3 separate regions of the Homo sapiens genome follow, and regions 1 and 3 are each linked to region 2. Evidence: fine-mapped expression QTL. A gene starts in region 2. Each other region holds a variant in brackets. All regions are shown on one strand. Distances are between the middles of the regions. Region 1 has its middle 12 kb from the start of HSD17B2. Region 2 holds the start of MPHOSPH6 (M-phase phosphoprotein 6). Region 3 has its middle 30 kb from the start of MPHOSPH6.

Region 1 (2,766 bases), 150 kb before region 2:
TAAAATACTATTATAAAATTTTTAAATTATTAAATATAAAAATAAAGTATTAATTCGATGGATGTGGGTTTTTTCCAATTTGTTCAGGTATCTTAATTTGAATGCTACTTACTAATAGAAAAATACAGGTTTCAGCATGAATTATATTGCTATTTTTAAAATTCTTATACACGTATCACTGAGAATTTTCATTCACAGAAGTGAGTAGATGGGGATGGAACTAGATTTGAATAGCAACTTTACTCAATTAAAAAAATCCATCAATATATTTCTCAATATTGACATATTAAATAAGCTTAACCATATGATCATATCCATAGATGAAGAATAAACATTTGACAAAATTCAACATCCTGTTGTGATAAAATTCTCAGCGAGTTAGGAATAGATGGGACACTCAATTTTTAAACCTCCTTTTGAATTATATGCCCCTAATTAAATTTTATGGTCAACTGGCAACTAGGTTAGGTTCTTCTTCAGTTTTGCTGGAAGCTGAGAATTGTAAACACAATTACTTGCAAAATAATTTATTATTCCATCTTCAGTGTCCAGAAATTAGACCAAAGTGGGTTTAAACCCATATCAAATGAATACTAATTATACTTGTTATTTTTTTTCTCCGAGACATTATGTTTCCCTAAGTATACTCAGAGTTGGGTAAATCACAACAGCGTTAATGTTAATTTCAATATAATACCATATTGTGAATGCAATATTTTTGATAAAATGCTTTTATCTTATGTATCTTAAATATATTTTAGGACAACTTTGTAACTGAAGACAACTCATTCAAGTTCTGGAATATATTCATCATATAATTGGCAAAGCCATTTCACATTGTCAAGTCAAACAGCTAAATCAAAGTATTTACATTATTTTTGAGTTTTATGGTCACGTTATATTTAATGATCAGCTGTTAGAAAAAATAATTGACTTCATATTTCAGTTCAAGTAAACATGTTAACAGTATACTCATGACCACCATTTTGTTTTATTTTGTTTTTGATAGATAGACAGTGTCTTGTTCAGTTTGGGCTGCTATTCCAAAGTACCAGAGGTGGCTTAACAGGAACAGGAGGCTTATCAACAACATAAGGTGGCTTATCAACAGCATAATTTTTTTTTTCACAGTTCTTGAGGCGGGAAGTCTGCGATCAGGGTGTCGGCATGATTGGGTTCTGGTGAGGTTGCAGAACTGCTGGCTCTGCAGGCTGCTGGCTTCCTTTATCCTCCCGGGGCCAAAAGAGGGCAAGAGAGCTCTCCAGGTTGTAAGGGCATTAATCCCGTTCATGAGGGCTCTACCGCCATAGCCTAATTACCTCCTAAAGGCTCTACGTCCAAATACCATCACATTGGGGGTTAGGATTTCAACATATAAAGTTGGGGGTTGAGATGATACAAACATTCAGTCCATTGTCAGCAGACAGATACAGCATGAAGTTTGTTATTGTTG[C/T]TATGGTTTTATTATTTAGATCATTTCCATGGGAAAATTCAGAGCATGATGAGGGAGCCAGTTGCATTGAGCCGGAGACATACAAGAAAGGAATCACAGGAGTCGAGGGAATTAGGCAACTAGACAAGAACATTCTAGGCAGAGGAAACTGCTGGATCAAGGAGGGTGTCCCATGTGTTTGATAAGAAGTAAGTAGGTCCTTGGGACTAGAATAGAGTGAAAGAGGGGGTAGAAGTCAGATGTGGTCTAAGAACTGCAGGGGCCAGACCATCCTTGTAGCCATTTAAGGATTTTGGCTTTTCTCTAGGTGAGACGGGAGGCTTTGCCAGGTTTTCAGTAGATGAGTGATAAGATTGGACTAAAGTTTTGAAAAGAATTTTTTTCTGGTGCTGGGTTGAAAATGGACTGTTGGGAGACAGGGGTGGAACCAGAGGGATCTACTGGAGGCAGTTGCAATGCTGGCAGGGGGTGATGATGCCTTGGACTAGGCTAGCAGCAGTGGAGGGAGTCAGAAGTAGTCAGGTAGTGGATAAATTCTGAAGGTAGAGCTAGCAAGATTTCTTGGTGGATTGGATGTGGGTTGATTCCAACAGCAGAGTCAAGGGGAGTCCAGTGCTTGCATGCTGTGCTGCTGAAAGGATGAAGTTGTCCTCACTGAGATAGAGAAGGCTGTGAATAAAGTAAATTTGGCACTTGTAACTTTGGGAGTAGGAGTTAGAGTAGGCTGTGAGATGACAAGTGAGATGACAACCCTGTAGGAAACAGGGAGAAGTTGAGTCTGTGGAACAATATGGGTGGGAGGAAGAGGAGGAGGTTAAAGAGACAGTGAGAGAATTAAGAGAAGCTCAAGGAAGTATCTAGGAGGTTAGGAAACTCCCTGGTGGTGGTGAGAGGAGACAAAGGATCCTTTAGTAAGTAGAGTTACATCACTGTTGTATGTCCTTTGGTGATTGCGGTAGTTTCCTAGGGCTGCCATAACAGATGACCATGACCTTGGTGGCTTGAATCAGCAGTCCACAACCTTTTTTGGTGCCAGCGACTGGTTTCATGGAAGACAATTTTTCCACAGATCTTTGTGGGGGTGGGGGAATGGTTTTGGGATGATTCAAGTACATTACATTTATTGTGCACTTTATTTCTATTATTATTACATTGTAATCTATAATGAAATAATTATACAACTCACCATAATGTAGAGTCAGTGGGAGCCCTGAGCTTGTTTTCCTGCAACTAGACAGTCCCATATGGGGGTGATGGGAGACAGTGACAGATCACCAGGTGTTAGATTCTCATAAGGAGCACACAACCTAGAT
Region 2 (2,766 bases):
TTATTAGCTGTGTAACTTTGGGTAAATTACTTATTTCTGTTTCAGTTGCCTTAGCTGTAAGAAGAGAGTTACTGCCTGTAGTCACCTCAAAGTGTCATTATGTGAATTGCATAGGTTAATATACGCAAACCACTTCAATCATTGTCTAGTACTATAAATATTTGCCATTTTCTTGATACTGTTCCCCGTTTCAATAGCTTTCCATTGCTCACAAAATAAAGGAAAATATCTTTAATCTGGCCTCAAATTCCCTGCACGTTGTGACCATTGCCTACTCTGCAACCCCATTTCTTAGTACTTGCCTTCCAGACATACTGAATTGTCTCTAATTCTTGGAAATTTCCATGGTTTTCTTTTTCTTTCTTGCCTCTCAGACTTCTGAACTCAGTTTCTCCTAGTTTAGGACGCTGTGCCTTCCACCCTCCCAGTAACCTAGAGACTACCCTGCGAGACTCACCCTCTTCTCCCTGGAAGAAGAGGGAGTTCTGCCAGCAGACTGTCTTTGGACTTGGACTGAGTACTTCTCTGGGTCTCCAGCCTACTGGCCCACCCTGCAGATTTTAGACTTGCATCTCCACAGTCGTGTGATCCAGTTTTAAAAATACCCCCTCTCTCCATACACATATATACACATATACATCTTGTTGATTCTGTTTCTCTGAAGAACTCTACTAAAAGAAGTATTATCAAAATTAAAAAGGAGCTTGAACTCATGTAGCCTAATGCTCTTCTTTTTAAAGATGAGGAAAAGAGATATTCAGAGAAAGAAGTGAATTTACCTAAATTACCCAGCTAAGGAGTTACACTTCCCATATATCATATTTATTGCATATATAAGTAAGCAACAACTTCTCGAGAAGCTCGGTGAGTCCCCAAGGTCCCCAGCGCTTCTACCCTCACTGCACTGGGTAAGCTGTACCCTGACTGCTTCTGTGTACTCAAGCTCCCATCCGCCCGCGGGCCTCCTGAGAGAGTCGGCCTAATTCGTAAGCTGGTTCCCAGTAAACAGTGCAGAGCAGGCGCTAAGTGAATGAATGAGCACGAGAGCTGGAAGCCCTCTGAGGCCTCTCTGGTGTCCCTTGTCCGCCCGCCGCCTCGGCCCCGGCCAGGTTGGAAGGACCGGGTGCCCCTACCGCCCGGAGTGGCGCTCTCAGCGTCCCCGCACCTTCATGCGCAGTAGATTCTTGGACAACCTTGTCTTTCGCTCGGCCGCCATGGTAGCTTCCGCCCAGCGCCGCACTCCGGCCGCGAGCCTCACCGCACATGCGCGGAGCCGCGTGCGCAGCTGCGTCCCTCGCGTAGTGCGCGCCGCCCCGCCCCGCCCCTCCCCTGTGTCTTGCGCGCGGGCGCGGCCACTCAGCGGGCGCTCTGCTGACTGAGAGGCTCGGGTAAGCTCGCGGGGTGGCGGGCGCGGGGATGAGCGCGGCAGACCGCAAAAAAGCCGAAGTCAGAGGACGACCCAGAACTTGGCTTCCCCGAGCCGCGGGTCGCCTTCCCGGGACGTCGGCCTGGCCCCCTCGGAGGCCCATCCTCCCTCGGGGACTCCCTTCCTCAGGGACCCCCTCCACACTCAGTAGTCCTCGCCAGCCTCAGAGAGGTTTCCGCCACGCCTGCCACCCGCCTGGGCCGTGTTACCCACGTGTTTTGTCTTCATAACGTGGGTGGCGGGCTCCCTTTGTTCTGGGTCGCTTTGCAGGGTCCAGGTCGTTTTCTCTTCACCAGGACCCCACGAGTTGCTGCTTTCCTCACAGCAGCCCGGAGTCCCGGGGGAGCGCGGCGGGGGCCGCCCCAGGCAGGCTGGCTTCATTCCCAGGCTGCTGCCGATGCGTGTCTGGCCGAGTGATCTCTGCTAAACAGAAGAATCTCAAGAAATGGCAAGGGATGGAGGCAGGGATGGGTGCCAAAGACACATGAATGAGAACAAAGCCTGGTTTTGATCCAAAGAATTGAAAAGACCATAGCGAGGGGCAACATAGGGAGACCCCACCTCTACAAAAAAAAAAAAAAAAAAAAAAAAAAAAAAAATATATATATATATATATATATATATACACAAAAAATATACAAAATATACATACAAAAAATATATACAAAATATACAAAAAATGTACAAAAGATACAACAAAAATAGCTGGGTGTGGTGGCACGGATCTGTGGTCTCCACTACTTGGGAGGCTGAGGCTGGAGAATCACTGGAACCCGGGACGTCGAGGCTGCAGTGAGCTGACATCCCGCCACTGGACTCCAGTCTGGGCTACAGAGTGAGGCTTTGTCTCAAAAACAAAACAACAAAACAAAAAAGAATTTAAAAAACCACTGAAAATAGGGTAGCGTTCCTACCCTGGTGTTTAATGCTCTGGGTACCACCTAAACACGTTTTCGAAAACCATTCCCAGGTCCGACGCTTTGGAACACCCTCAAGCTAATAGCATCTCGGCTGATACCATGAGTTCTACGTCAGATTGTTGACCTGGTCACCTTAGGGCTAATTAGTTCACTTAATCCCCATAAGAACCGGAAAGAAGGTATTGTCATCGTGTTGTTAAGGATTCTGAGACACAGAGTGGGTAACGCACTTGGTGTTCACACAGCTAATCCATGTTAGAGCTGAAATTCAAACACCGATTTGGATGTTAAAAGCCCTTTAGGTTTTCCCAGGGGTAAATAAAATCATTGTAATGTACCAAGTGGCTACAGAATCTCATTCACTTGTGACTGTGTGTGAGATGCCGGGGGTATAATAGCGTGTAAAAACACATATCCCCA
Region 3 (2,766 bases), 30 kb after region 2:
GTGCTGGGATTGGCACGGTCAATTAGGTAGATGTGACCTCTGCCTTTGGGGGACTTATAATCTAGAGGAGAGGGGCAGGAGTTAAAAATTTTCTCTGTCTCTGTCTCTCTTTCTCCCCTCCTCTCCCCACACACACAGTGATAGAAATAAGAGGTCTATGGTGGCTTGAGAACACATAATAGGAAGAGTCAGACTGATCAGACTGATTACACTGGACAGGGAAAGGCTTTGATATGATTCGGTTGAGGTAAGGTATAGATTAGTTATGATACAAGCTAAGCTCTGTCACAAAGATGCTACATTGTCATGGCTTCAATAAGATGTAAATTTCTTTCTCTTTTATATGACAGAGGTGAGCAGTTCAGGGTTGGTAGGCAGCTCTGCCATCTTCAACATCTGGCTTCCAATCCTACCTCTGTGGATATCATTTTGAGCCAGAAGGAGGGGAGAAAGAAATGGCTTTCAAGAGGTGACTTGGCAGCTGTACACATCATTGTTTCTTGGCCAGAATTTAGTCACATGACCACACCTAGCTACAAAGTAGGCCAGAAGATGTTGTTAGTGGTGATAGCTAGGTGCGTGGGAGTTCTATTTAAAAGGAAGATAAGAATGGATGCTGGTGGGCAGAGGGGACAGTCTTTGGCACAGAAATGAAGGATGAGTAAGAGTTAATTAGGCTGAAGTGAAGGGAGACAGAGGGGTAGCACATGGAAAGGCTGCATCACTGGAGGAAGTGTGGTGACCTTCGCTGAAAGTAGGTCACGGGCCTGGGTCATAGAGGTGGGCAGATTCAAGGTGAGCTGGGCATGAGCCAGATTACGCTTAGCTTATGGCTCAGGGCAAAACGTTGGTCTTCATTCTAGAGCCAGTGAAGCCATTAGGGTTGAAAATGGAAGGAAGGGGACCCAAGAAAATTCTCTCTTTGAAGAGATCACCTATTACAGTGTGGAGAATGGATCAGAGGGCACAGTAGTCATACACCACATCAGGCACCATGCTAGGTGCTGGGAAATGGCAGCTGAGCAGGATAGACCCAATTTCTGACCTCCCAGAGTTTACATTCTGTGGGAGGGAGGGAGAAAGCTAAGGAAGATCTAGGAGTCACAAGGGATAACTTTCCTACGACAGAGCCAGGCAGGGACTGTCAGTGACATTTTGACTGTAAGTTGGGAGAGGCCCTGGTTCTGCTTTAACTGCAGCTTCTCTCTCCATAAAATGGAGGAAGCCTCCAACAATGGGTTCATTCAAAGGGGAGGTATTTTCTACCAGCTTCTTCTTTTTTTTTTTTCTTTTTTTGAGACAGAATCTCACTCCGTCGTCCAGGCTGGAGTACAGTGGCATAATCTCCGCTCACTGCAACTTCTGCCTTCCAGGTTCAAGCGATTCTTCTGCCCCAGCCTCTGGAGTAGTTGGGATTACAGGCGTGCTCCACCACACCTGGCTCATTTTTGTATATTTTTGGAGAGACGAGGTTTCACCATGTTGGCCAGGCTGTTCTCAAACTCCTGGCATCAAGTGATTCTATCACCTTGGCCTCCGAAAGTGCTGGGACTGCAGGCGTGAACCACTGCAC[C/T]TGGCCCAGCTTATTTTTCTTAATTGAAGTAAAATTCACATAACATAAAATTAACCATTAACCACTTTAAAGTGTACAATTCAGTGGCATTAAGTGCATTCATATATTGTATAACCACCATCTCTATCTAGTTCCGAGACATTTCGTCACCCAGAAAGGAAAGCTCGTACCCATTATGCTCCATCATACTCCTACTCCCTGTCACTCAAACCCCTGGAAACTCATTAGCCTGCTTTCTATGTCCATGAACTTACATATTCTGGAGCTTTCATTTAAATGGAATTATGCAATATGTAACCCTTAGTGACTTGCTTCTTTCACGCAGCATGAGGTTTTTGTGGTTCATCTATGTTATAGCATGTATCGGTATTTTATCCTTTTTTATGGCTGAACAATATTCCATTGTATAGATAGACCATATTTTGTTTATCCATTCATTCATTGATGGACATTTGTACTGTTTCTGCCTTTTGGCTGTTGTGAATAGTGCTGTTGTAAACCTTTGAGTCCACTTGCTTATTTTTTTCCCAAAGTAGGTTTTTTCATCCTATGTGTAAAAAACCAACAGGAGAGGAAACAAAAGATGAATTGAATTCTTCTATCCTCAGTTGTGTACCGTCACCCCCATCACCCTGACCCAAGTGCATCTACGGGCTCCAGGGTCCTGCCCTACTCCACTCAGGCTGTCACAGTTCTCTCCTGTTGCCTGCCCCACTTCTATTTTCCATGCCAGCTCTTCTGTTCTCCCAGTGGGATTTCCGTGGTCTCTGAAGGAAACTCCACACCTCTGCTTTTGCTTCCTGTCCTCTCACTCCTCTACCCATCACCCACACCTGGAAACCCCACCCCCATTCCTGGTTTTCCAGACTCCGTCATTCTTCATGATTGCCTTTCTTCAAAGTCAGCACAGTGTCATCATTCGAGGAAGGTGGGAACAGCATGAGGAAGTGAGGAGAAGGCTGTTGATGTGTGAGGAGGTCAGCTGGTTCATTCTTTCCTGTTCATCCATTCACTCATTGTTTTATTCATTTTTCCAACGAAGATTTATTGAGCACTCACTCTAGATAAGAAACTAGTGCTAAAGCTTCAGACATGGATGCATGGCCTGGCTCTTGGAGTTCACAAGTGAGTCAGATGTCTAAACAAAAAAGCCACAAGACAATACAGACTTTTAATAGGGATACAAACAAGGT

What was found. PIP is the estimated chance that this variant, and not a neighbour inherited with it, causes the effect.
Region 1: its variant is fine-mapped to the expression of MPHOSPH6 in cerebellar hemisphere (GTEx, PIP 0.93).
Region 3: its variant is fine-mapped to the expression of MPHOSPH6 in left ventricle (GTEx, PIP 0.94).

What each region holds. Positions count from the first base shown.
Region 1 is chr16:82,022,239-82,025,004 of GRCh38, forward strand. No RefSeq gene overlaps it. Among named protein-coding and RNA genes, the nearest start is that of HSD17B2, 12 kb to the right of the region's middle. The variant C/T (reference allele first, on the strand shown) is at 1,454.
Region 2 is chr16:82,168,960-82,171,725 of GRCh38, forward strand. MPHOSPH6 (M-phase phosphoprotein 6) reads right to left here and starts at 1,265. Exons shown (of 5, transcript NM_005792.2): 1 at 1,166-1,265. The coding sequence starts at 1,216. RefSeq lists an enhancer at 1,122-1,266, a cis regulatory region at 1,194 and a silencer at 1,241-1,400.
Region 3 is chr16:82,198,883-82,201,648 of GRCh38, forward strand. No RefSeq gene overlaps it. Among named protein-coding and RNA genes, the nearest start is that of MPHOSPH6, 30 kb to the left of the region's middle. The variant C/T (reference allele first, on the strand shown) is at 1,574.